4 linked regions of the Homo sapiens genome follow. The protein of the gene in region 3 interacts with the protein of the main gene of each other region in a biochemical or structural test. Each region holds a gene or a part of one and is shown on either strand. Other genes may lie near its edges.

Region 1 (7,191 bases), on a different chromosome or scaffold from region 3:
CCACCACATCTGGCTAATTTTTGTATTTTTAGTAGAGACAGGGTTTCACCATGTTGGCCAGGCTGATCTCTAACTCCTGGCCTCAAGTGATCCACCCGCCTCAGCCTCCCAAAGTGCTGGGATTACAGGTGTGAGCCACCGTGCCCGGCCTGTGACTTCGGTTTTGTTTGCTCTCTTTCCCTGGTTCTCCTTGGTTTGCTCATTCTGATGACAGCAAATGCCGTGTTTTGAGCTGCCCTGTGGAGCAGCCCATGGAGCAAGAAACTGAGGGTGACTTCTGGCCAAAAGCTCATAAAGAATAGAAGCCCTGAGTCCAACAGTCTTTGAAGAACTGAATGAATCCTGACACCTGAATGAGCTTGAAAGTGGATCCTTCCCCAGTTGAGCCTTGATATGAGAACACAGCCTGGATGACACTTTCATTACAGCCTGTGGGATACCCTGGGCCAGAGGACCCAGCCAAGTGAGCATCCTGACTCCTATAAGTTCTGAGATCATAAATTTGTACTGTTTTAAACATACAGTGTCAAACTTCTAAGCTTTATGGTCATTTGTTACGCAGCAATACATAGCTAATACATATTTTGGTACTAACAGTGGGGTGTTGCTATAACAAATACTTAAAAATTTGGGACTGAACTTGGAACCAAGCGGTGGTCAGAGTCTATAAGGATTTTGAGAAGCATGATAGAAAAAGCCTAAATCACCTTAAACAGTTTTTTTTTTTTTTTAAGCAGAAATCTGGAGTTGGAAGATGCAGTGAGTGAGGGCCCAAATGGAAGTGAGGAATATATTACTAGAAATAGTGGAAGAAAGACCCTTGTTATGTAGTGGCAGAAACAGTGACACTGTCATCTGCAGTTATGTGACTAATGAACTGAATGATTTAGCTAAAGAGTTCCAAAGAAAAGATGGTAGTTGCCTCTTACTTTCTTCTTGCTGCTTGTAGTGAAATGTGAGAGGAAGGTGATGAATTGAAGAAGGGACTGTTAAACAAAAAGATGCCAGTACTTAATGGTTCTGAAGTCTCATCCTTTCCAGATCCCAAAAGATGCTAAAATTAAGAAATAGCTTCAGAAGGCTGTCTGGAAAGTGTGCCCAGGAGTGTGACTGTGCGACCTGTTGTTAAAACTTCAGAAAGATCAAAGGATGAGGGTATTACTCTGTCAAACAAAGGGTGCTTTAAAGAGATTAAAGAGATGCCTGATATATCCTCTTAACAGAACCATAGGACCTCTAGGAAGCTTAAGGCTCCTCAACAGGAGCCTCAGTTAAAAAGGGGTGTGACTTTTGTTCAATGGAGTGAACCCCTGTAAGTTTTACTGTTGAGAAAATAACATCAGCAAAATGTTGGCAACTTCGGGTAAAAGGGATAGAGACAGTACAAAATGAAAAGATACCATTGAACAAAAAATAAAAATAAAAAAGACAAGTCAGAGAGTGGATGCAAGAGTCCAGAAGGCAGAGCTGAGAGCCATGGAGAATTATCCCCAGGCCTTGAAACCTAATCAAGGAATGTCCAACATTTGTGTGGCTGGATTTCAAAACCGCTATGGAACATTGACTCCATGTCTCCATTTTCCTCAATTTTGAATAGGAATGTCACTAGTTCTTATCCTATGCCTATCACATCACTGTATGTTAGGTGTGTTCAGGGCAAATTACTTAGTTTCACAGATCTATGATGGGGAAGAATTGAATCTGAGAAGCTGTACTTAAGGAACGACACTGGAGGAGCCTCAGCCACACCTGGAGCTGATTTATATGACCAGATTCTAGCTTTTAAACTGATGCTTTAATAGGATGAGAATTTTAAAGATCTTAGGAGGGGATGACTATATTTTGCATGTGGAAGGGATGTACATTATTGGGGGCCAGAGGGCAGAGAGTGGCAGGCAGTTGACATGGCTCCCAATGATCCCTGTTTCTTGGTATAATTCTCTCCCCTTTGGTGTGGACTGGACATAGTGATGAATGGAATGTGGCAAAAATGAGGGATGTTGCATCCATGATGAACTTATAAGAGACTACAACTTCTGTCTTTTTCACACACTCTCTGCAGCTCTCCTCAGCTCATCTTCTCTGACAGAAGCCAGTTTCCCTGTTGTGAGATGCCCTATGGAGAGGTCCACAGGGCAAGGAACTCAGAGTGGCCTCTTGCCAACAGCTCCAGAGTAGCTGGATCCTGCCATGTGAATGGGTTCCTTCTCTGGTCGAGCTTTGAGATGAGACTAGAGACCCAAGCAACACCTTGATTGCAGCCTGTGAGAGACCCTGGGACAGAAAAATCACCAACACTCCACCGGTATTCCCAACTCACAGAAACTGTGAGATAGTAAATGTTGTCTTAAGCCCACTAAGTTTTGGGGTGATTTGTTGTGCAGCAAGAGATAACTAACACAAGTCCATGTCAAGCATTCTCACATCTGGTAAATTAGTCTGGTCTTCACAAATACCCAGTAAGGTGTTCGGAGACACTACTAATTTATCTTCTTTCACAGATGGAGAAAATGAGGCTCCGAAAAGACACAGGACTTCACCAGGTGGGGCTAAAATTAAATTGCACATCTTCAAGCTAGGTGAAGTTCAAGTTAGCTCCAAGTTTTCTTTCTCCTCCTATCCCCAGCCACCAACCTGACGTGCCCACGGCAGCTCTGTACGTCCCAGTGCACTGCCAGTCCACAGCAGTCTGGACGGGCTACAATGGAAGTGTGGACTCACTTCCAGTTTCTGACCCAGAGAGAGAGATCCCAAGAGACTTTGGTCAAAGAGGGCGGGAAGGTAAGTCCAGTCTAGGCAGTCTTCACTCACAAGCAACTCTGAATGGGGAGAAGGAAGATGAAACCCCATGTCCTGGAAGAACCCTGGCCCTTCATAAGTCTCTGCCTCACCTCTCCAATCTCTTTCATAACAGCAGGAAACACGTGAACCACACTGATGTGTGCTGAAGCCCAGAAGTGCAGATCCCCACTGCAGAACTACTGGTGAAGACCAATGGATGGTTGCTGGGAAGTGGCCCTCCCCAAGATGTTCATTGGAGTTGCCATGGTGATCACTATACACAGGGCTCTGTTACCTCAGAGGGCTGATAGGCCCACCCGTAGGGAAAAGAGGCCAGGAGAAAGCCAGGATTGAGGCCAGGAAAAGGCAGGAGGGGCTTCAATTATTGTTCACTCTCTCATCCACTCTAGAATGTCAGTTGAGCCCCCACTACATGCCAGGTGTGCCAGGCACAGGGGGCTCAGATGCTACCAAGTGCAAAAGATGTTCTTGGGAGCTCAAAGCACTAAGTAGGGAGAAGAACTAGCTCTGTGTAGGAAAAAGGAGGAAGGACTTATGAAAGAGCCATTTGAGTTGGATCTTGAAGGATGCCTAGGAACTTAACAGTTTTGAAGGGATGAGAATATTAAAGGCATGGATGTGTATAACAGCATAAATGTAGGTCGAGGTCAATGGGGAAGGAGAAAGATGCATCTGGAGCTGTCTGATTTGGACACCCAGGGATCAGGGACCTGGGAGTAAAACTAAAGGAAGGGTCCTCTCTCCTATTCCTAAACAACAAGGGCTACAGAAGGAGATCAACAAAATTAAGTGACTTCTTTTCTGCAGAGAAGAAGGAGGCAGAAGTCATTGGTGCCAGCACTGGCCCATTCCTGTCTGGCTGTTGCTCAGCCTGGACAAAGAGTGGGTATAGTGAACGCCTCCTGCAAGCCCAGCCTTTCAGGATTTCCCCAGGAAACAGAGAGTGCTGTGGTTAAACTTGGAGTCCCCAGAATCTGGGCCTGTCACTTATTAGATAAGAGACTGGCCAAGTCCTTTAGCTGAACTTCCTTCACATGTGAAACAGATATCACCCAACACTAAGGATAAGGGTGATGGGCGAATAAAACAATTTTTTGCAAAATGTAGCACATTGCCTTGCACAGAGAGAGACATCACAAAACTCTAAGCTACTTCCGCAAGCAACCCATCAGCAAGTCCTTCGAAGTACACTAGATTTGGATGCCTTCGTCCACCTCCACAACTCCCCCTACTCCCTGGTCCAAGCCACCCTCATCTCTTGCCTAAGTATTATCTATTGCTGCACGACAATCTTGCCATAAACTTCGAAGCTTAACATACAACTGTTATCTCACAGTTTCTTTGGGTCGGGTGTCTACTCATGGCTTAGCTGAGTTCTCTGCATTGGGGTCTTAGCAGGCTACAATCCAAGTATTGGCCAGGGCTGCAGTCTCATCTGAGGTTCCACTAGGGAAGAATATGCTTCCAAGCTCATGTGGCTGTGGGAGGATTCAGTTCCTTGCAGTCTGTTAGACTGAGGGTCTCAGGCTCTCTCTGGCTGTCAGCCAGAGGCCATCCTCAGTTCCTTGCTATGTGGGCCCCCCAACACCAACATGACACTGACTTCATCAAAGCCAGCAAAGAGGGAGTCCCCTTGCAAGATGGGGCATTACAATGTTGTGTACCATAGTCACAGAAGTGGCATCCATCACCTTTGCCGTAGGCTGTTGGTTAAAAGCAAGTCACGGGTCCCACCCGCAGTGAAAGGGAGAGGGTCACACGGGGCATGAACACGAGGGGGCAGATAATATGGGGACCACCCTGGAGTCCACCATATCCTCTGACAGTCTTCTCACTCAACAGCCCAGCAATCCTGTTAAGACCTATATTAGATCATATGTCACCCCTCTAAACAAAACCTTCCAGCTCAACCACAGTAAAAGCTGACATCCTCCCATTTATCTGCAAGGCCCTACCCAACCTGTCCACCATTTTTCTCTGACCTCTGCTCCTCTCACTTTCCCAAGTGCTCCCTGGGTCCCTGCCATGCCAGGCTCTGCTGTTTTTTGGGCACACCAAGCACAGTCCCTCCTCGGGGCCTTTGCACGGGCTGTTCCCTCTCCTCTCCTGCAACTTCCTTCCCCCACATGCCTACATGGCTTGCCTCTTCACCTCCTTCAAGACTCTGCTCACCTTCCCAGACCACCTTTTCTTAAAAAGCATCCCAGCCCACCCCACACTCCCTACTCCTATTTTCCAACCTTTTCTACCATTGCACCTTATTGCCATCTGACATACTGTGTATATTTGCTTCTTCTTCCCACAGTAGGATCTGAGCCACATGTGAGCTGGGAAGAGGACTGTTTTGTTAGTGGCATGGAAGTGAGAGGGGTCAACCCTCCAGACTACCAGTCCCACCACTACAGGTCCCACCGGCCTCAGCATTCAGCCCCATCACCCAACCTGCCAGCCCCAAAACCAACCTCCTCAGCATCTCCTGAGCACCTATTTGCCCCAATGCCAAGCCAAGGACAGACTTGGTCTCCGGCCCTCCAGGATCCTGTCTTCACTGGGAAGGCTGGATAGTGGGGAGCCGGTAGTCCCCAGTAGGTGGGGCCCGGAATTCTTCTTGCAACCCCAAAGGAGGTCTAAGAGAGGCTGTTTCTGGGAAACTTGAAATCCAGCCACATGGGGCCAAGCTATCAGGTTGCTTTCTTCTACTGTGGCTTCCTGATTCACCTGCCAGAGCCTGGACCTTCTCCCAGGGCCAAAGCTCTTTCTCCAGCCCCTCCCTCCACTGCTCCCCAGGGGGTCTTACTCTGAGCCAGAAAAGGTGCTCGAGACAGAGGCCACCTTCCTTTCACCTGCTCCTGAGCATGGCCTCTTCTGAGAGGCCCTGGGTCTGTGTGACACCTCTATGGACATATTGGGAAAGCCAGCTGTCCCTCCGCCCCTACCCAGGAGGCTGGGGCTACAGCAGCTGGGGCTTCAGCTCTCTGGCTTTCTGGTTCCCTTCCCACCTGTCTTCCTGGTAGGACCCAGCATGCTCTGGGACAGAGTCCACCTGACATGGGACAGCAGGAGGCTGTTTCTGCCAAAACTGGGTGAAAGTGGTGTCCTCGGTATGGCTTCCCCAGCCAGAGGGGCTATGGTGGTCTCTGTCCTTGGTGGAGTCTCCGGAGTTTGAAAGAGATGGAAGTTTGGGGGCAAGGATGGAGCCCAGAGAGAGGCAGGCAAACACACTACTCAGAAAAGGCAAAGTTTATTCCAGTGTTGACAGAGAGAGGGTGAGCCTTGCACAGCAATTCTAAAAACATGTCATCTCCTTCACCTAAGAGGTAAGAACCGGCTGTAAGTCATGGGGTCACTAAACCGGCCGCAGTTACAGTAAGCAGAAGAGGTCACGGCTCAGGCCTTCTCAGACTTTCCCTGGGACACACGGCTCTCTGGGGGGGCCCGGCGAAACCACTCGGACCAGGAGCCATCGTACACGGCCACATCAGGCTTGCCGCAGAGGTAGGCAGCCAAGGCCACGTGGCAGGCGGTGACTCCCTTGCGGCACGTGGCAATGAGAGGCTGCGAGAGATCCACCTTCTTGGTCTGGAACAGAGCACGGAGCTCTTCTGGGCCCTTCTCGAAGCCATCCTCAGTCAGGAAGTCCATGAAAGGCATGTTGACGGCACCACGGATATGGCCCGAGTCCAGTCCTGGGCAGGGCAGAGGACACAGCTTAGGGGATGTATGAGGGGTGGGGACTAATGGGGCCTGGAGGATTCCATCAGCTATAGCTGGAAGGATAGATAGCTTTGCAAATAAAAATAACATCTTTGCTCTGCTTGGAGCTCAATTTATTCCCAGCCCCACCTATTATCATTTCTCATGACTTAAGATGCCTGCAACTCCTCTCCTAACACCTGTCTTGAAGTAGAGATGCCCAAAATCACACCTGCTTGAGAAGACAGCGGCATGAGTCTCAGCTCCACTAACCTTTACCTTGGGCAAATCATTTCACTTCTCTGAACCTCAGTTTTCTCATCTGTAAAATGGGCTCAGTGGTACATACCTATCTCACAGCCATGTTGAGAAGAGCAAATGGGACAACTTATTGCAAATGCTATGTGCTGAGAACACAGCGGTGAAAGGCAGAGACACAGCCAGGCCCTCTGGGAGATTCCAGTCTAACAAGAAAGGCAGATGCTAAACAGATAACCACATAACTAATCAGATATGTCCCCATTTTACAGATGAATCCGCTGAGTCTTGGCAAAACAACACGGCTCACCTAAGGCCACACAGAAAGATGAAGGCAGACCCAGGATTACATCGGGGCCTCTGGTTTTCTGTTAAGCACACAGTTGCAGAAAGAGCAAGTGACCTGGTGTCAGATGTGAGGTCAAATCCCACTGGAGC
Region 2 (4,376 bases), on a different chromosome or scaffold from region 3:
TGACCTCGTGATCTGTCTGCCTGGGCCTCCCAAAGTGCTAGGATTACAACTGTAAGCCACCGCACCCAGCTGCCTCTATCTTCTTAAGGAGTAGAAATCAGACAAGATCTGAGGGGCCAGGGATCTGTCTTGACAATCCAGATGTTTTCACTCCCACCCCGGAATTCTTCCCATTATCCAAGCTTTCTTCTCAGCCCTGAAAAATGAACTTTGGCTGGCTACTTGTAGAGCTCTTTAGATAAAGGAATTTTTAAAGTAATATCTTATGATTGTTTTTGAAACAGGTTCTTCAAGCCCCTGTAATCTCTCTCAGCATGGGGGAGTAGATGTCTTTTTCTAATCTATTTCTCTTTATATCCTGCACATTACTTCAAAAGGTTTGCTTTTTTATTCTATTATGCATCCAAAACCCAACAAATCCTAGGGCCATCTTTTGCAATTTACTTCAAAGAATAGATTTGAAAAGTCACACACCTCTCTCTTTGCCCAAAAGAAGCTGAGAACAATGAAGCTTTTGGTCTCAGGTGAATCTTTTATTATTTCCAACTGAGACAAACATTTTTCCAAAGACAGTAGCACAGTCATTGTCATAAGCATGTTAATATGTCTATTTTGCAGAAAAGAATATGCTACAAGTCATGCAATTCACATTTTCAATAGCATTCTGACAGAAATTAAAGACAATTCCAATTGTGTCAAACATTTAATGAATAGTAAGTTCTACTTTCTGCCCTTGGGTAGATAAATGGTGTCTTTCAGTGAAGTGGTGAAAAACAGATCATGTGATGGCTGCTTCTTAACAGTGCCCACCGCTCCAATGACAGTCAGCCCCTTTGGCTGAATTTCTCAGCTATCTTCTGTAGTTCCAAATCCATTGCAGCCAAGTTTTCGAGTTCTTTTTTCTGGAAAATACAGAAAAGTGGAGGCATGAGGTCCCGAACCAATTTCTTTTGCTGTAGTTTGATGGAGCATGAGTGCAAAGGGGAATTTTAGGCATGTTAGAAGCTGCATTAGTCAACCTACCTCAGTAACTCTCAAAGTGTGGTCCCCTGACCAGTGGCATCAGCCAGGAACTTGTCAGAAATGCAGATATTGGGGTCTCACTTGGGACCTACTAAATGAGGAACTCTGGGGGCTAGGAATCCCTCATGATCCTAATGTACATTCAACTTTGAGAAGCACCAACCTACATAATCAATATTAGGAAAAAAAACATTGTTTGGGTAGGTTCAGCTCCAGTAGTGTTACCTCTCCCAGATACAAATTTCTGATGGCAGTAGGGCATGAAATAATAAAGATAGCAAACTAAATAGGCAAGCAAGTAAACTTCTCTATCACCTATTCTCCCTGCCTCAGGGAGAGAGTGATGAACAATAAGAGGACCAAGGGGAAGATACCAGAACAGCAGTTGTTAACGTTGGCTGAACGCTGCAATCATCTGGAAGCTTTAAAATATTCTGATGATCAGGCAGCACCCTAGGAACTAAGTAGACAGAATCTCTAACACAGTAATTTTTCACGCTCTCCAGGTGACCCCAGTGTGCAGACAAGGTTGAGAAGCAATGCAACCGAGTGAGGTGGACAAGGATGTGGACGATGGCTAGAGGTAGGTGGAAACCGACCCCCAAGGTGGCCTCCACTCCATTACTAGAGCACCATTTTCATAGTGATTAATTCCCACCAATTTCTCCCCGTGAATATCGGATAGTCTTGAACATAATGTGCTAACATTGACCAGAGTAAGTACTTTTAAACAGAAGCCCTAGACCATACCTCGTCCTCTGTCAGGACTGTCTGGTCAGCCCTGTCCTTTTCATTTTCTGCCTCCTGGTGGGTGCTCACCGGCTCCTCAGAATCATAGAAGTCTGGAAACTCAGCTGACTTCTTCCTGTAGTGAAGGAGCTGGTCCAGTTGGGCCACCCTGTCATATTGCCTTTTCAGGTCCAGCTTGGGGACCCTGGCGAGGTTTCTCTTCTCATACCCCCAGTTCACATCCTCAGAGAAGGGCTTTTTCTCCCACCAGTCATAGTTGTATTCTGGGAAGAAATTCTTCTCGTTCAAGGTCAGCTCATTTTCCTCCTCACCCTCGAGAAAATTGTCATTCATGTTGTCTCTTCTTTCAAAATGGCTGCTCTTCCACTGGAGAGGGTCGTAGTATGGGTTGAACAGTTCCCCTAATCTCTTCCTCTTTTCAGCTGTGTGATGGGAGCTATATTGTTTATCTTGAAACCTAGCTTCCTCCCTGTTTTCTTTAGTGTCCTGCAGGTCTCCCTGCTGCTGCCACTTCCCTGGGGCTCCTTCCTCACCGTAGTTGAGATAATTTCTGTCCAGCTCTTTCCACGCACCTTGTGGATGCCTCCTTGCCTTGTCCATCTGGTTTTCTTGGACACGGTGGTGTCCTTCACCCAAGAACCTTTTCTCTTCTCTGGTGTCAGACATGAAATAGGCACGTGGCTCCCCTCCCCTGCCTCTGTGATGGCGTCCCTTTCCCGGCTCAAGGCCCCTCTCTTCCTCACTTTCTTCACCATATCCATGTGCCATCTTATCAAGCTCTAAGCTGGGGTAGTTTCTCTTGTCCTCCTCATCCCAACTCTCCTCACTCTGAGGTCTTGGAGCCCTGTATTCTTCACTTCCTCTGCCCCTATAGCGCTCCCACTCCAGGTCCTCAGGGGCCTGGACGCCTGGATAACCCTTTATTTCTTCTCCATATTCAGGTTCTTCCTCTGAAGCCCTGTAGTGGGTTGAATGGTGGTCCCTCTTTTCCCCTAAACTGGCCATGCTGACGTTTGACTCCTCAGATTCCTCCTGGGGGTGTCCCTTTTCCTCAGAGGGAAGACTCCCTCCTTGAGAGGACCTGTCGGGCCTGCTCCTCCCGTGGTGGTGTCTGGGCCTCGTGCGTCGTTTGTCCACCTCAGAGGTGGCATCTTCCTCACCTTCCTCAGATTCTTCCTGGCTTCGGGGTTGGCCTTTAGACTCCTGGGGGTGATTCTCCTGGCTCCCTGTCTCCTCTCCACTCTCCTGGCTACTCTTCTCTCGGCTATGTGTCTTCTCCTGAGAATGCCCGGCAGCATGTGTTTCCGATCTGGCCACTAACTCCTCTTTTTTTATAGCTGAAGCCTGCTTTCTTTCATTGAGAAAAGCGTTTTGTGTCTCTCCTGGCTCTTCAAGGTGTTTCTCTTCACTGCTATCTTCCCCTCGCTCCCCTTTTTGATAGTTCTCTCCCTCCTCCTCCTCCTCATCCTCTCTCTGGCTCTTCTCAGAATGGCGTGTCTTCACTTCTTCAGAGACTTGGCTGTCGGAGGGATAGAGGCTCCACTGGGGCTCATCCGCTCGCTCTCGGCTGTGCCCGCCTCCCTCTGCCCATTTCTCTGTGTCTGCCTTTGTTGGGCCTTGGATGTCCTCCTCCCCTGGGGCTCCTGCCTCTCCCCTGCTGGAGGACTCGTGGGCTTCCGAGGCATCAGCTGGGTCTCTTAACAATCTTACTTCAAACTTTGTGTTTTCATTTTCAGTTGTCTCTTTGTCTTTGACGTCTTTTCTACCTATAATGAAAATGAAGAGTAGGTATAATTTCAGAATTGCTTGTGGTTCCACAAGCACCAGCCTCAGTAATCACTACAAATCCTGATGACACTGAAAATTGCTTGGATAATTATTTAAGTTAATGAAGAATATACTCAGATTCCTTTTGAAAGTAAATGCTATGAAAGCTCCTTGACTGTGTTTAAATCTGGTAATAAACTGTCTATATTTTTATGTCTTCATAATGCCCAGCCAGCTTCTCTCATTGGTACTACCAATGATCAAACTGAAATCGAGATATAGATTTATGAAATATTAGAATTTAGAGGCAGGAAACATCTTAGAATTCATCTAATCCAGTCCAACCTCTTCTTTTTGCAGACATTGAGACTCAGCATGGTATAATCCAAGACCATTCTTTCCATATTTTCTTCAAGTAGGAGTTAAAAAGTTAGCACTATGTGAATGGCTCTAACAATAATCCAGCTAGATAGTTAACTAGCCAAAATAAGAAATATCAAGATTCAAAGGAGGATTTAAACATTTGAAATTATTAGTTTATATCAGACTTTTATTATCCAATCAACTGTAGGCTCAACCTAGCAGTATGTGATATATAACTTAGTAGCTGGTGATAAGGGTGTACATTTCTTGCCTGAGAAAACTGCACATCAGTGGAAAGGGCCATTTCTTTCTTCACTCAGGTTCCATCCACCCAACATGTTCTCAGATGTTGGGGACAGACTTCAGCACAGTGAGTTATCTTTGTGTTTCCAGAGTCAGAGTACATGGTATAACTGATATTTTAATTGAATGCTGTTCTCGTCCATCTTTTCCAAATATCAATAGCTCCTTTA
Region 3 (7,032 bases):
GCCCAAGCTGGCCCAGGCCTCGGGGACTCAGGAGCCTGTGGAATGTGCTGAGAGCCTGAGGTCTCTGGCGGGGAAAGGGCAGGGGTCACAGCCCCCCTCCTGCCCTACCTCAAGTGCTTCCCAGCGGAGGGCCTCTAGTGTAATTCCATCTGAGACCTGGGGATGGCAGGAAGGCCCGGCCCTGCTTTGTTTGACCCAGCTCAGAACAGGATCCTGCACCCCTGCTCCTGCAAACTGATGGGGGAGGCCAGAGGAGGCCGCTCCCAGCCTGATACCACTGTCTTCCCTGGGGCTGTAAAATCAGCAGTTGGGGGATGGGGTATTCAGAGAACTCTGCTCCAGAGAACCAGAGAACCCTGGAGCCACCGCCAGGCGAGTAACTTCTCAGCACTTCTTAGCAGCAAGGAGTTCAGGGGAGAACTCCATCTGTCTTCTAGGTCCTTGGAGAACTAGAGGCCGATGGCAGAGGGGTCAGGCTGCAGCCCCGGGCCAGCCAGCTCTGATGTGTGACAGTCATTCCACAGGAATTACCTTCTCTTGCGAGTGCAAGCCTCCAGCCGGCCCAGCTCCTCGTAGGACTGGTAGAAAATGTCGAACTCCCTGGCGCCCCAGCCCCTCCAGACGGCCAGGCACCACTCTGTGTTTTCATTTTCAAAGGTGCACACAACAGTGTCCTTTGCCACCACGGCAGCATCCACCAGCACCCTGCAGAGAGAAGGGGGTCTGAGGAAACTCACAGGGGTTCCCACTCGGGTGGGGTTGGGACCCTCCCCCTGTGCCTTCTGAGGAAGGCGGAGCTGGCTAAGGGCAGGGGAGTGTGTCTGCTTGCCAGCCCTCTCTGGGGTGTGCTGAGATGCACCACTTCTCCCCAGTGGCCAGCCTGTGGGCTTAGGCTTTATAAAGTCCAAAGACGGGCTGTGGGCATGAGTTCGCGTCCATGGGCTTTGTCTGTAAGAGTCAGACTCCCTGGAAGGCCACAGAGGCAATCAGATCATGCATCCTTGACTCAGCTCCCAAAGCGTCCAGAAAACACCACTGACCCAAATTTCTGCTTGTGAATGGCTCATGACCGAGTTTAACTCAACTCCCTTGCCACTAAGCTCAGTAAGATTCTTCTCTCATTCTGTTTCTACAGGCTTAGGAAATACAGGATCATATATTAAATGGAAAACCTACTGCCCCAAAGTCATCACTATATACATTTTTTGAAACTGTGGACAGTTTTGCAGGATCGGTGGGTGTGTGCTACAGGTTTCCTTTTGGGCCACAGTGTGGCCTCCCTGCCCTGGTGGTGCCCCACCCCAAGCACATACTAATTGCCTTTCCTCCCTCTGTGTCCCGTGTGTGCGGCCTGCGTGGCACTGAGGTGCTCCTGCAAACTGGGATGTCCAGGGACCTCTCACTCCGCGTGGCCTTGCCAGGACCTCCCCTTAGGGGAGGAGCCTCCCTCTAGCGAGAAAGAGGTAAAATCTGGCTTTAGGGATGAATAGGAGAAAAACAACAGCTAAACGTTAGGACATTAATGGCAGGTATGCCAAGGTCCTAACCTGGGTGCTGCACACCCATTTCCTCCAGAAGCCCGACCTGCAAGCTGGGAACTCCATCAGTTCAAGGCTTCTACCCACAGGCTCTGCCAGAGCTCAGGAGCAGATCCAGATCTTGCTTCCAGAACCACTTACAGAGTAAGGGTCACTGGCCCAGGACTCACTGCAAAAGTTCAAAGCTGGCAGGCAAGGGAGTGCGACTGCCAAGGATGTCCTTGTCATTGTCCTGCTTTGGGAGAAGCAAGCTGACTGGTGTTTCTCCACCCTCTTATGCTCCAGATGAAATAAAAACCCACTTGCCCAGGGATGGGGGATAACTCATGCTGCAGGGAAACAGGCCTAGTGTGAAATGGAAGAGCTCCAAAGTACACACACACACACACACACACACACACACACACACACACACATTTGAACTGAGGACTTTTCGTAGGGGAGATTTACCGTGTGGGGCTCGGTAGTCAAAGTGCGGGGTGTAAACACTGTGGGGAGCTGCAGCTGGCGCCAGCCTCACATCACTGCAACCATGTAGACCATGTCCCGGACAGGCCACCCTGCCCAGCATACCTTCACAGAGGAGACTGGCATAATCCTGGGGGTCCCCACCCACAGACAGGTACTGAGCTATGTCTCAGCCCAGGAAGGGCAGGAGCTGAGACCCCAGGCTTGGAGATGACAAGGTGTGCCTGTGTCATCTGTCCCCATAGGGTGCTGTGTGGGCTGGTGGACACCTCGGGTAGGGTTTCCTGCTTGGCAGGAAGAACAGTGAATCAATGACCTGGATGCATCTGCATGTCGATTGCAGCTGAACTCTGGCCCTGGAGACATTCGTTAGGTAGGGTACTAGGTAGGGTACTTGATCTACAGGTGCACTGGGTACTCCAGAAACAGGCAGCCATGGCCAGTGCGGAGCCCCTAGGAGCTGTCTGAGGGGCCCCATCTTGTTTCCACTTTGCCTTACAGCCACGTTAGTGGCTATGCTATTTGGGAGAATGGAAGGGCAGCAAAGCCACTGTGCAGGACCTGGCTGCAGGGCCTTCTGTGCTCATGCTGCTGCCTGGGTCCTAAAGGAGCTGCCACTCAGTCTTACCCATGCGGAGTCAGCTCTCGGGCTTTTAAGACGGCAATGACTCGGCCCCGCTGGGCGCCAGAATCCTTCTCCAGGCCAATGACGATAACATCTCCACCGCGCCTAAGCAACCAAAACCCAGAAGGGGAAGCGATTTGTCGGTAGCCGTGCTCTCCGGGGAGTGAAGCCGGTGTGCAGAAAGGTGCGGGAGGGAGGCAACAGACATGCAGTTTCTGCTAAGGGATTAAGTTATGGGGAGGGGACAGACTTCAAAGCAGAGGAGAATTTTCTCAGTGGAAACTGAGTCACAGTTGACTGTGGCTTTCCTTGTGTGGCACCTTAAGCTCTCTGGCAGGCAATAAGCTTTTGTGCGGCCACTCTTAGATTTGCTAAAGCGATCGCTTCCATTCCCAATGGAGGAAACCAACCCTCTTGGAAGAACAGCACCTGCCTCCCCACATGACCTGTAAGGAAGCCAGGGGGCTTCCCCTTGCTCTGTCCCCAGAGCAGGAGCAGTGGGCGTGCCCTGGATGGTGCCCTCACCTCGGGAAACGTACCTGGGGACCCAAATGAGGTCTCTGACGGCGAGGATCTTCACGGCCTGCAGGTGCTGGCTGAAGGTCTCCCCGTCCATGGGGGTCAGGTCATGCTCAGACCTGTCGGAGGCAGCACCGGGCGTATGTAGCATGTCTGAGTCCTCGCAGTCGGTGGAGAAAGGCACACTGGAAGAACTTGCTGGGGAGCTGGGGAGGCTTGAGGGGGACCTGGCAGCCTGGCGGGGTGGGGATGAGGAGTAGGAGGACATGGAGCAGTAGTCAGTGAGTGATTCCTGGTGGATCAGGATCTGCGTGCCCAGCTCCTCACTGTACATGATGCTCACGTCCGCGATGGAGTCCCCCTCAGGCACCTTTGGGTTGGCCGTGTGGCTGGCTGCCGGGGGTTCCGTGTCCAAGGGCCGCACGGGAAACATGTCCCTGAGGGGGCTGGGGACCCCGCAGAAGTACCGGGCACACAGCTGGTAGGTGGTGGAGTGGTACATCACCAAGGAGTTGGCCTTGTCATCCAGGCACCAGACGACCTCCTCCCCTCTGCCCTCAGAGCTGCACACGACTGACGTAACCATGGAGGGGGCCATGTAGGGCTCCAGCCGCCTGCAGATCTCCAGGGAGGCACAGTCGATGACAAGGAGGCCCGGCCCATTGCTGTACCAGACCTCAGAGCCGCTGTTGACCACCTCCATGGCCTTCACTGGGTAGGGGTTCTGCCGTGCGTCTTCATCCGCGATGCTGAACTTGGACCTGTTGGCTGTGTGTGAGCACAGGTAGGAGCAGCTGTCCTTTGGGGTGCCCCGCACCACGGGAAACACAGCCACAAGCCCATCGGCGAGGCCCGCTAAGACCAGGTAGGAATTCTGAAGGAAGGAGACAGGGATGTGTCACATCCTTCCATTTCACACATTCCAAGAGAGACACAGAGTAGGCACTGGACTCATCTGCACCCACACCAGGCGGGCAGTCACTTTCCACCAGTGCGCCTCAGGGCAGCAAATCTCTTAGAAAGGCCGGGGCTACTCCTAAAGAAGTGCAGCTCTGACTCCGCAGAGCCATATCTACCATCCCTGCAGCAAAGAAAGGAATGTGCCACCCAGAGGCAGGGCCTGTGGCACCAAGTAAGGCTGCGTGTCACCTGGACCACATGGGCTGCCTCTGCTTCTGCCAGCTTCTTGCAGGGCGAGCAGCAGGGAGCTGCCTTCTCCTTGAGGCCACCAAGGCCTCCTTCAGAGGCAGGACCTGGTGCCCCCGCCCTTTTCTCGGTGCTGCTTAACATGACAGCAGTGGGGGCATGGCAAGCATCTGTGCACTGCCCCCTGCCTGCCACCCCCCCCACCAGGCAGAGTGTTCCATAAGGATGGGCTCCCAGCCCACCAGCATCCCCGTGGCACTAGCCTGGCACAGGGAAGGGCTCAGTCTCCTTCATCTTGGTGGCCCTGTGACTCCACCTGGCTCCTGCTCCAAGTGGATGACATGTGTTTGCTGAACTAATTCTGGAAGAAATCGCTTCCTACTCAACCCTCTTCTGGAGGCCTGTCTCAGCCTGCTGAGCCCTCATCCCAGCTTACATCTATCGAGATGCCTGTGGTTCAGCTGACGTTGACAGGGTCCTCAGGGTGCCCCCCACCCCCTCAATGAAGCATGAGCTCTTCTACACCCGCCAGAGGTCACCGGGCAGAGGCCAAAGTTGCAGGGACCTTGCTGAATGCTGGGCCCACCCCAGACCGCCCCGGGGCACCTCCCAGGGCAGAGCCAGGAACAGAGTGCAGCTCCGCAGCCTAGACACCGCGTCGGCTGTGGTGGGGGTGGGAAGAGGTCTGCAGAACAAAGCTGGAGTCAGGGCAGAGCAGGGAGCTGGGCCTCATGCCAGTGAGGGGGCAGGGCAGAAAGCCTCCTTGTGGGGAGCTGGGGGAGCTCAGGAGGCTGGCTGTGCAGGGCAATGGAGTGGAGACCCGTAGCTCACTGTCCAGGACAACATGCTCTAAGAAAGCGTATCGAAATCCATCCCCAGGACTTTAGGGAAAGAAGGCAGCCAAGGCAAACAGGCTCCAGGTCTCTATCTGCAGTCCTGGCTCAGGCCCCGGCCAGGGCGGTGAGTGCCACGTCCCGGCTGGGTGTGAACGTGGGTGCGCGTGCAAGAATGCAGGCTTCGCGCTGGCGGCCTTGGAGGGGGCAGACACCCTGCCCAGGAGGCCCTGCACAGAGCAGGCTTTATTCCCTCTGGTCGTGCAGGAGGTGGTGCCCTGGCTGGGGGCTCTCGCCAGCGGTGGCCTCAATAACACTTTGTGTCGTGTTCTCCTGCGCTCTGGTACGGGCCTGGTCCCAAGCTGCGTAGCCTCGCTGTGGGGCCATGGTCATAAATGACTCTAAGGTTCATTTCATACCTGTTTTTTTTTTTTTTAAATGAAACTGAAGAAGGGTGAAGAGAAGAGTTCATGTATTTTGCGACCATCCAGAAGTAATAATAATACTCATTTACCAAGCACACCGGCCTAGACCTTTGGGTATGCTAGGCCTTCTGTCTCTTCTTATACCTGTTTTGTAGATGGGCAAACTGGAATTGGATGATGACAGTCACATTTTAACAAAGCAACACCAGTAAAGGCTTCTTGTGCATTTAGTGAGGGCGCCTATGCACAGACAGGCCCCTCAGGGTGGATGAAACCAGAGCTGGCTGAGCCGTGCCTGAATCCTGTGGGCGGAGGAGCCCGGAAAAGCCAGGGAGCTGCCCCCCACTGAGGGGCAGCTTCTCAAAGGAGGGGACAAGGCCCCGGGTCTTGAGAACTGAATCGGAGGCCGTCTGGGAAGAGGTGCGTGGAGGGGCTGTTCCTGGAGGAGGCTGGGATGTCAAGGGCCCAGCACAGAGTGGGGTGCTTTGTGGGGAGGGTGCCGGGCCCAGCAGGGACTGGAGGCCAGCCTCATAGAGGCTGGGGCTAATCCCAAGGTGCAGCACAGCTGGCTGGGCCTTTAATGGGGAGAGTGCCCCTTGGGGTCTCATTTAGAAAGGCCAGGGCTAGGAGGTTAAAGAGCTGAGTCTGCAGGGCTATGCTGCACAAAGAGAAACTGCGTCTGGTGTAAGACGGCGAGTACTTGGCGGGAGGCAGAGATGGAGGGAGGGAGATCAGGACCTCCAGGACCTGGTGATCAAGTGGCTGTGAGGTGGCTCTGGCCTGGGCAGGTGGGGAAGAGGCTCCGGATAGGGGAAGGGCACACGCATGACTGCTCACCGTGCCATTTGTACCAACAGTCCTTCCACCTGAGTCAGGGCATTTGCATGTGAAAGGGGGTTTTTCATTCGGCCTGCAGTCTGGCTGGGGACTTGACTTAGGTTTTTGCAAACCGGAAGGCACTAATGACGGACCAGGTCTGATATCTTTCCTCCCACCGTCTCTAAGTCTACGTCCTAGGCCAGGTGGTCCTAGGTGTGGCTCTGCAGGCGCCACCCTGACATAGCTAGGAGACGCCTCCTAGGCGTGGAAGTGCATCAGAGACCTGCATACCTGCCTTTGCCCCGACCTCACCTTTTTAATAACAGGCACGGCCAAGAAGCAGGTGACGACAGCTGGAGTATCCAAGGCCTGTTGGGGTGTGTTTAAGGGGCACATGCCCTTGAGGGTGTAGATGTAGATTTTCTGGTCCTGCAGAGGCAGACAGGTCCACTGTGAGACCCAGGCTGGAAAGTGTCTGGCATTTCCCAAGCCATTCCCATGAGGATGCACTTGGACTTGGGGATCCCCTATGGGTCTTGGAAAGTTACATGGATTGACACGTTCTGGTGGGTTGTTTATGGATTTCTGCTCTTTGTAGAAACGTTGAAAAAGACAGACTAGTCTAAAGAGGAAACAGAAAATAGCCCGTCATCTATTCC
Region 4 (7,032 bases), on a different chromosome or scaffold from region 3:
CTGCAGCCACTCTGTGACTACAAGAGCCAGTCCTCCGACCTTTTCACCCAGTGCCAATTTCCAAAATTCAACAGCTAAAAACTGTAAAACCGGGGGTCATACGGTGTGCAGAGTCCACAAAGCCTTGCAGGTGAGGTGACCACGCCCACGTCACCTGGTCAGGTGCCATCGTCGTGAGCCTCTGGTGGGCCAGGTGGGACACAGCACACCCCAGGGGGAGGGGATAGAAACGCTCATTGACCAAAAAGGAGCAGCTGTGACCTCCACAGCTGTGTCTGTCATGCTTGCTTCATCTAATTTCTAGTTAGTAGCTATTAATATAGCAAATAATAAATGCAGTAATAACAGTATAAAGTCAGAGGAATGTATACTGCCTTGGCCCCAGCGTACGAGGAAGCGTATAAAACACCATATCACAGATTGTCTGTCAGTAATCTGCTGTTCAGCCAAGAGAGTTCAAAGGGAGCAGTTTCTGCATGTAGGGAAGTTGGAAGACACAAACCCCACCTCCCCTGGGAGCTTGTAACAAAGCAGACAGGGATGCAAAAATAAATGATGTCAGCCTGCAGCCAAACTCCAGCATCCCACACCGCAGCTGACCCACTGCTCATCGCGAGGGCCTGCCAGGAGCTGGCCTCCCGCACTACTTGTGAGTAAAGTGAATATCAAATACCAATCTTAGAGTACAACTGTACCAGCAGTAAGTATATCTAGGACTGTAACTGACAAAAATAAACTAATTCTGAAAAGAAGATAGTAAGTATTAAGGTTTTTGTTTACTGTCTATATAATTAATAGAAACCAGCTATTTTTTCTCCATTAAAACATGCATCACGTTTAAAGCACTATGGAATCCTCCAACCTCAGCTCTAGTCTAACAAACTGCAGTGTTCAGAGAAGATAAAATGCCCGTGATTGGTAGAGTCTGCAGTCCAGTTGCAAGCACCTGAAATCTAGAGAGAGAAAGACCTATAACCTGTATGAGACTTCCCCTTCCAAAGCTGTATTGTCTACATTAAAAAAAACAAAAACAGTAACAACAACAAACACACAAATGGTCAGAAATGTCATCCTTAAACCCTTTGTTTTTCAGCAGTTTGCCCTCAGAGTTCTGGCATAACACATAAAGTTGTCAGGCAACTTTAGTCCTCCTCCAATAGTGCAAATCAGACACGACAGTTCTCTTCAAGTATACACACGCACACACATGGACCGAACCAAACACGCCGTGGAAGCTGAGCCACACACACCCCGGTCTCAAGAAGCAAAGGAAAAAGCACAAAGCGTCTGAGTCACCAATTCATCATGGCTTGTGACTGAGAAAGCGCTGTGGAGTCCTGGCCCCGTCGGGGCAGCAGACCTGCATCAGAGGTTTCTTTGGTAACTGAGGCAGGAAGTAAGGATGCTACATTAGACAGATGTTCCACGCGTAGTTCCTGCTATCATGTTTGAGGGCCCCCTTGTACGGATACCAAGCAAGTACAAAAACAGAACACAAATCCCAACAACATGGTTTTTGCAAATAAACCATCCCTTCCCTTCCCCCCACCCCACCCCCATGATTTTTTTTTTTTTAAGTACTGACTGTTCAAAGCTCAGGCAAACCATGCAGATCCACGTGTTGTTGGAGGAGGCGCTCCCTTCAGGAGACCACAGAGGGGGAGTGACTGTGGCTGACCATGTGGGCAGAGGGGCTGGCGGGCTGGCCCCTGCGAGAGGCGGACTCAGGGCTGCTGGATGCTCCGTCCTTGGCCGCTTTGATCTGGAGCCACGTGTCACCCAGAGCTTTGGCAAAGTGGTCGTCCACGGAGCCCGTGATGGACACGGAGTTGGGTGCCGGCTCGGGCTCCTTGTAATTCTTGCCCAGGCTCCTGCGGAAATGCTCCTCCACCACGGGGTCACAGGTGGTGGCAGCTGCAGGCAAGCAGGAAGGCAGGCAGTCAGACACAGGTGGCTGCAGACAGACAGGCACGGTTGCAGCACCCTCCCTCAGGCAGCCCAGAGCCGGACTGGCTGCCACGGTCAGCGTGGGCTCTGCAGACAGAACCCACCTCCCCCGGCTAAGTCAGGCACTTGGGCAGGTCACTTTTCTGTAAAATGGTGATGTACCAACTGCACTGGGCCAGAGTCCGAGTTCAGAAAGAGAATGTGGCATTAAATTTAAATAACAGTAGCCGCTGCCCTCCCTGCAACTAGGGCATGAGACCCTGGAACTGAGCGAGGCGGTGTGTTTCTCATGCCCTTCCCACCCAAGTCATGCGCAACGCTAGGCGCACACTGGACGTGCTCAAGAAATACTTTTTCAACCTCAGCAATAGATGGGCTCAGGGGCGAGAGGTTTCAGCCAACAGCATGACAGAGAAGGGCTCTGCTGCCACTAGCACAGCTGTGACAGGTGAGGAGGCCCGGGACACTCACCGCTCGGTGGCCTCCGGTAGCTGGCAGGCCCGGGCGCGGCACAGCCGCTGTGCGCGATGGGGCAGTGCGAGAGGTTGCAGTTGCGGGCGCCAGCCGAGGCACAGGTGATCACGGAGGGCCGGTTCTGCGGGGAGGAGGGGTGTCAGTATGTGGAGACCAGCTTCAGTACCGGGCACCACCCCTGGGGCCCTCCCCAGCACCCTTCAGGCTCTGTCCTGGTGCCCTTCCTGACCCAGTCTGCCACCTCCCACTTCAATACTGGAGTCCTGTTGCTAAACACAGCCAATCCACAGAGTGAGCGCAGCTCCAAGGGTGTGTGTAGTGGCCCTTGGTCGTGGCTGTTTGGATCAGTGAGGGTACAAAGGACAAAAGCTCAACTGTTGAGTTGGTCTGTCCCCATCTCTCAAATCTGTTAAGACAAACACCGGGCATCCTGTGGAGGACAGAGGGTTGCAGGAGGGACCTCGATTCTCCCGTTAACGTCCCCAGAGCCCTTCCCATCATGTCCACTGAGCCGCGGGTGTGCCTGGAGCCATCCAGGACACTTCAATACACGGCAATTAACTGGAAGCATTTTGCTTGAGCCAAAGCCAGCTCGAGTTGGCCTCAGTGATGACCTACAAATCGGGACAGAGAGGAAATGGAGGAAATATGCCTAAGTGTGGAACGGCACACATCCCACCCCAGCCCGATCTGCCCTGTGCACAGCCTCACTCTCTCCTTCACCCCCACCCCCACGCTGTCTGCCTGGCAAACTCCCCTTGTTCCTTCAAGCCCTGTTCAGATCTCTCTCTGAAGCCTTTCACTGGCCACCGCCCCACCACCACCGCTTTTCACTCCTGCTCCCCTAACCCACCAAGATTCAGCAAGTGCATCGGTCTGTCCAGGTGCTCCCGTAAGACCATGCACACCAGGCAGTATGTCTGGCCCCCCAGCTTTGGTGTGGAACCTGGGACAGAAAATATTTGTGAACTAAACAGAACTTCCTCAGGTTCCCCCAGGAAAAGTATCTTCCAATACCCCCGAGGACAAGGTGGTGGAGTATGTGGGCTAAGTTCCAGGACAGCCAGCAAGGAGCTGGTTGAAATCACCCCACAGGGACCAATGGTGACAGCAGTGTCAGCCAGAGGGACGCTGGGCCTTATCCTCCCCAGCCAGCCCTTTCCATTAAAGTTAGAGCAGTAGCTGGTATAAAGACACAAAAGGCTTGCATGCCAGACCTTCTCATGATAGACGACAGTGATTGGGAATGGTGAAAGTGGATTCTAGGATGAAAATGTGGATCCACAAGGATGAACTGGGATTGAACACAAGGACCTGTGCTTGGGTCTAACAAGAAGCGACACATGCCAGGGTAGGGGGGGATGTGGCTTAGCAACAGCAGACCAACCAAGAATTCAGGGTTTCTTAGTGGCCCGACACTTAGCAGCGGGACAGAGCTGCCCAGGGTTCGTACGGCCTCCATGGTGTGCACAGGTGGCAGCGCAGAGAGAACCCGGGCAGGTGGAGCTGGGCTGAATGTCCACGTTCTGCCTGTGGACAGGGCCTCGGGTGAGAGACTTCACAATGCTGAGCAGACAGGCTCGGAAAGGGGGTTGGGGACCGACAGATGAGGCCTGGAGCAGATCTCACACTGGCTGACCACAGGGGTCAAGCAGCAGCAAGAGAGCAGAATACCGAGACCTGGACACGCACAGAGCCAGGAGGAAGGAGGGCCCTGCCCCTGTCCAGCTCTCAGAGATGGCCAGGCCCTTCCTGAGCCTGGCTGCACCCATGACCTTGGGCTCTAGGAGACCCCCCCCCAGGGTCCTCCCAATAAAACTCCCTTTTGTGCTCAGCCGGCTTGTTCTTTGCAGCGAGCGTGTCCTGACCCACGCAAATGTGGGGAACTGGGGAGACATTTCGAGCACAGGGAGGGGGAATCAAGGAAGATGAAGAAATGAGCTCACTGTCCAGCCTTTATGTCAGTCTATCCAAGGCAGGAAAGGCCACTTCAGAAGAGACTCTCTAACAAGGGACCAGCAGGGCAGGCTGGCTGACTGGTATCAGACCACCTTCAGGGCATCTCCTGACCTGAGCTGGGGCGAATTGCCTTAACCGGTCACCTGCAGATGTGAAGATGTTCAGTGTCTGGGCATCCTCTCCTCCTCCCCACAACCCAGGCTGCAGGGTGGCCCGTGAGCCCTCGTGGGACTGGCTCCACCACCCCTCCTCCCCAGCTGGAGTCAGGCATCTTGCCCCTGCCTCTGTGGTTGAGTGCAGGCTGGGACTCGTCCACCTAGAACGGGCCCCAGGCCTCCAGATGGTGAGCGTTTATGGGATCCCGAGGCTCCCCTCCCCCACACCCTTATTTTCCAGATGGGGAAAATGAAGGCCAGAAACACCCTGTTGGAAGTTACGCTGCGGATTTGTGGCAGGGCCAGTATGAGCCCTGTCACTAACCCCTTCACCCGCTGTCCCACCCACCTGTGACTGTCCTCAGACAGAGGCTGCCCCGGGGGAGAGGGCTCCCACCACCTCTCCTATCTGAAAGCAACCCCCAAGGCTGGCTGCGCCAAACTTTTTTTTTTTTTTTTTTTTTTTTTAAAGACAAAGTCTCACTCTGTCGTCCAGGCTGGAGTGCAGTGACGCGATCTTGGCTCATTGCAAGCTCCGCCTTCCGGGTTCAAGCGATTCTCCTGTCAGCCTCCCGAGTAGCTGGGATTACAGGCACCCACCACCACGCCTGGCTAATTTTTGTACTTTTAGTAAAAACAGGGTTTCACCATGTTGGCCAGGCTGGTCTCGAAATCCTGGCCTCAAGTGATCCGCCGCCTCAACCCCCCAAAGGGCTGGGATTACAGGTGTGAGCCACTGTGCCCAGCCCTCAATGTGCGAAGCTTAACCCCATCTTGCCTCTCCTCACTGGCTGCTGCCCAAGGCCACCCTCTTGGTGTTTGTCTGTCCTGAGCTGCTATCACAAACATGAAATGGGGGGACACTTTCTGTAGCCTCCCCATACATGCCCCTCTGGGAACTTTCCTGTCCCAGTTCCCAGAGATCTGAGACACATTTTCTGCCACACAGAGGAAGGCTTCCACCGTGCCCACCCCACAGGGCTGCAGCATGCGTCCTGCCTGCCTGTGGACACAGAGCTTTGCTGTCACCCCAGGAAGCCCCCTCCCCACTGCCATTTCCCTGGCTCTGAGCTGCAGGATGACACCCAACAGACTTCCAGGAAGAGACCTCGGAGCTGCTGGAGCACAGGCAACGTGGCTGCTTGGTGTCCTCAGCAGGGCGCCCGAGCCCAGCTCGGATTGGTGTGCATGGCCTCAGCCCCGCCACGCTGCCGCAGGAAGGAGCCCCACGAATGGTTACGACATGAATGACATGTGCTGACAGCAGCCACGGCAAGGAGGGCAGGACTGACCAACCCCAGCCGAAAATGACAGCTCCGGTCAGGGCCACTGTGCCCTTCCCAGGAAAATGGGCAGCTTGGGGTACCCCGTGGCCCCTGGCTTTGTCCTCAGTCCAGGCCAGGATCCCATAAAGATATAGCTGGGGGGTCGAGGTTCTTCCTCCTAGGAAAGCTGCTCAGGAGCCCCAAGGCACAAGGAGGGGCCCTTGCCACGTGTGCCGTGGGCAGCCAGGCCCATTCCAGGCTGGGGAGAGGGAGACAGGGTAAAGAGAGTCAGGCCACTCTGTTCAGCAGTTCAGTTTTTGCAAAGCAACTGTGACCGAAAACCAACTGCAAGATTCTCAAGAGCCCTGAAGAGTCAAGGAAATAAATCATCCAAGAACACACTAAGCCCGCCAAGGGCCCACCCTGACCATGTGGGCAGAGATAGCTTGTAAGGCTCACAGTTATGTCCCCCAGGTCATCAAGGGCCAGAGGCTGGATGTGGGTGCTCCGAGATTACAGCTGAATCCTCCCCTCCATACCCGTGTCCTTCAGGGACTCCCCAACAGCAGTGGCAATGGCCAGAGAGCCAGGTTCTGCCTGCACGGTTCAGGCCATGGCTCATGGCAGCATTACAATGCCTGTTGAGCTTCCCAAAGCAGAAAGGTCCACTGCCCACCCCGGGGAGCAGTGAGCGGGTCCCTGTGGGTCGCACTGCGCACACGCCTCTGTTCCAGCCCCTGCTGCTGCCCAACAGCACAATCCTCTCTTCTCATGTCCATTTCCCCAATTAGACTGGGAGCTCCCTGTGGCCGTGACAGTGTCCACACACACGTCTCTGGCTGCCCACAGCTCTGCTCTGCAGAGGGCTGGGTAAATGGTGAGCGCTCGTAAAACGTTGAAATGAACAGCAGTGATAACTTGGCCTCGGGTTCCATCAGACACATCAGCGATCTCTCCTCCAGACTAAAACTGAGCGTGCTGAGAACAAAAACTGCATCTTGCTTGACTGGCTTCTGGTACCCCCTGGCACACAGCAGGGGTCTGTGCCATTTTGTTAAATGGATGAATCAAACAAACAGGATTACCATGTCAGGCTCTGAGGCAAGATGGGCAACTGTTCTCAGCTTCACCAGGATTCCCAAGCACCAGAACCACCTCTCCCAACTCCCAGGGCCTACCCCACCCACAGTTTCAACAGACCCCATCAGACACGGACACCAGGCAGTGCCACT

The links.
Region 1: the proteins of LRRK1 (region 3) and CIMIP4 form a complex in vitro, tested with the Homo sapiens proteins (2 studies listed by BioGRID and IntAct, with this or other methods).
Region 2: the proteins of LRRK1 (region 3) and CHGB form a complex in vitro, tested with the Homo sapiens proteins (2 studies listed by BioGRID and IntAct, with this or other methods).
Region 4: the proteins of LRRK1 (region 3) and VGLL4 form a complex in vitro, tested with the Homo sapiens proteins (2 studies listed by BioGRID and IntAct, with this or other methods).

Annotation. Positions count from the first base shown.
Region 1 is NC_000022.11:37,004,838-37,012,028, forward strand, and holds the start of CIMIP4 (ciliary microtubule inner protein 4), read right to left. Parts: upstream 3,015-7,191; 5' UTR 2,892-3,014; intron 2,820-2,891; exon of another isoform or gene 2,635-2,819; intron 1-2,634. Other genes in the region: TST (thiosulfate sulfurtransferase), read right to left, coding at 6,190-6,488.
Region 2 is NC_000020.11:5,921,498-5,925,873, reverse strand, and holds the end of CHGB (secretogranin-1 precursor), read right to left. Parts: intron 3,540-4,376; coding exon 1,774-3,539; intron 903-1,773; coding exon 825-902; 3' UTR 521-824; downstream 1-520. UniProt on the Homo sapiens protein: Secretogranin-1 is a neuroendocrine secretory granule protein, which may be the precursor for other biologically active peptides.
Region 3 is NC_000015.10:101,062,344-101,069,375, reverse strand, and holds part of LRRK1 (leucine-rich repeat serine/threonine-protein kinase 1), read right to left. Parts: intron 6,803-7,032; coding exon 6,686-6,802; intron 5,975-6,685; exon of another isoform or gene 4,025-5,974; coding exon 3,171-4,024; intron 2,737-3,170; coding exon 2,635-2,736; intron 706-2,634; coding exon 528-705; 3' UTR 1-527.
Region 4 is NC_000003.12:11,556,914-11,563,945, forward strand, and holds part of VGLL4 (transcription cofactor vestigial-like protein 4), read right to left. Parts: intron 2,543-7,032; coding exon 2,419-2,542; intron 1,955-2,418; coding exon of another isoform or gene 1,941-1,954; exon of another isoform or gene 1,915-1,940; coding exon 1,643-1,914; 3' UTR 1-1,642. UniProt on the Homo sapiens protein: May act as a specific coactivator for the mammalian TEFs.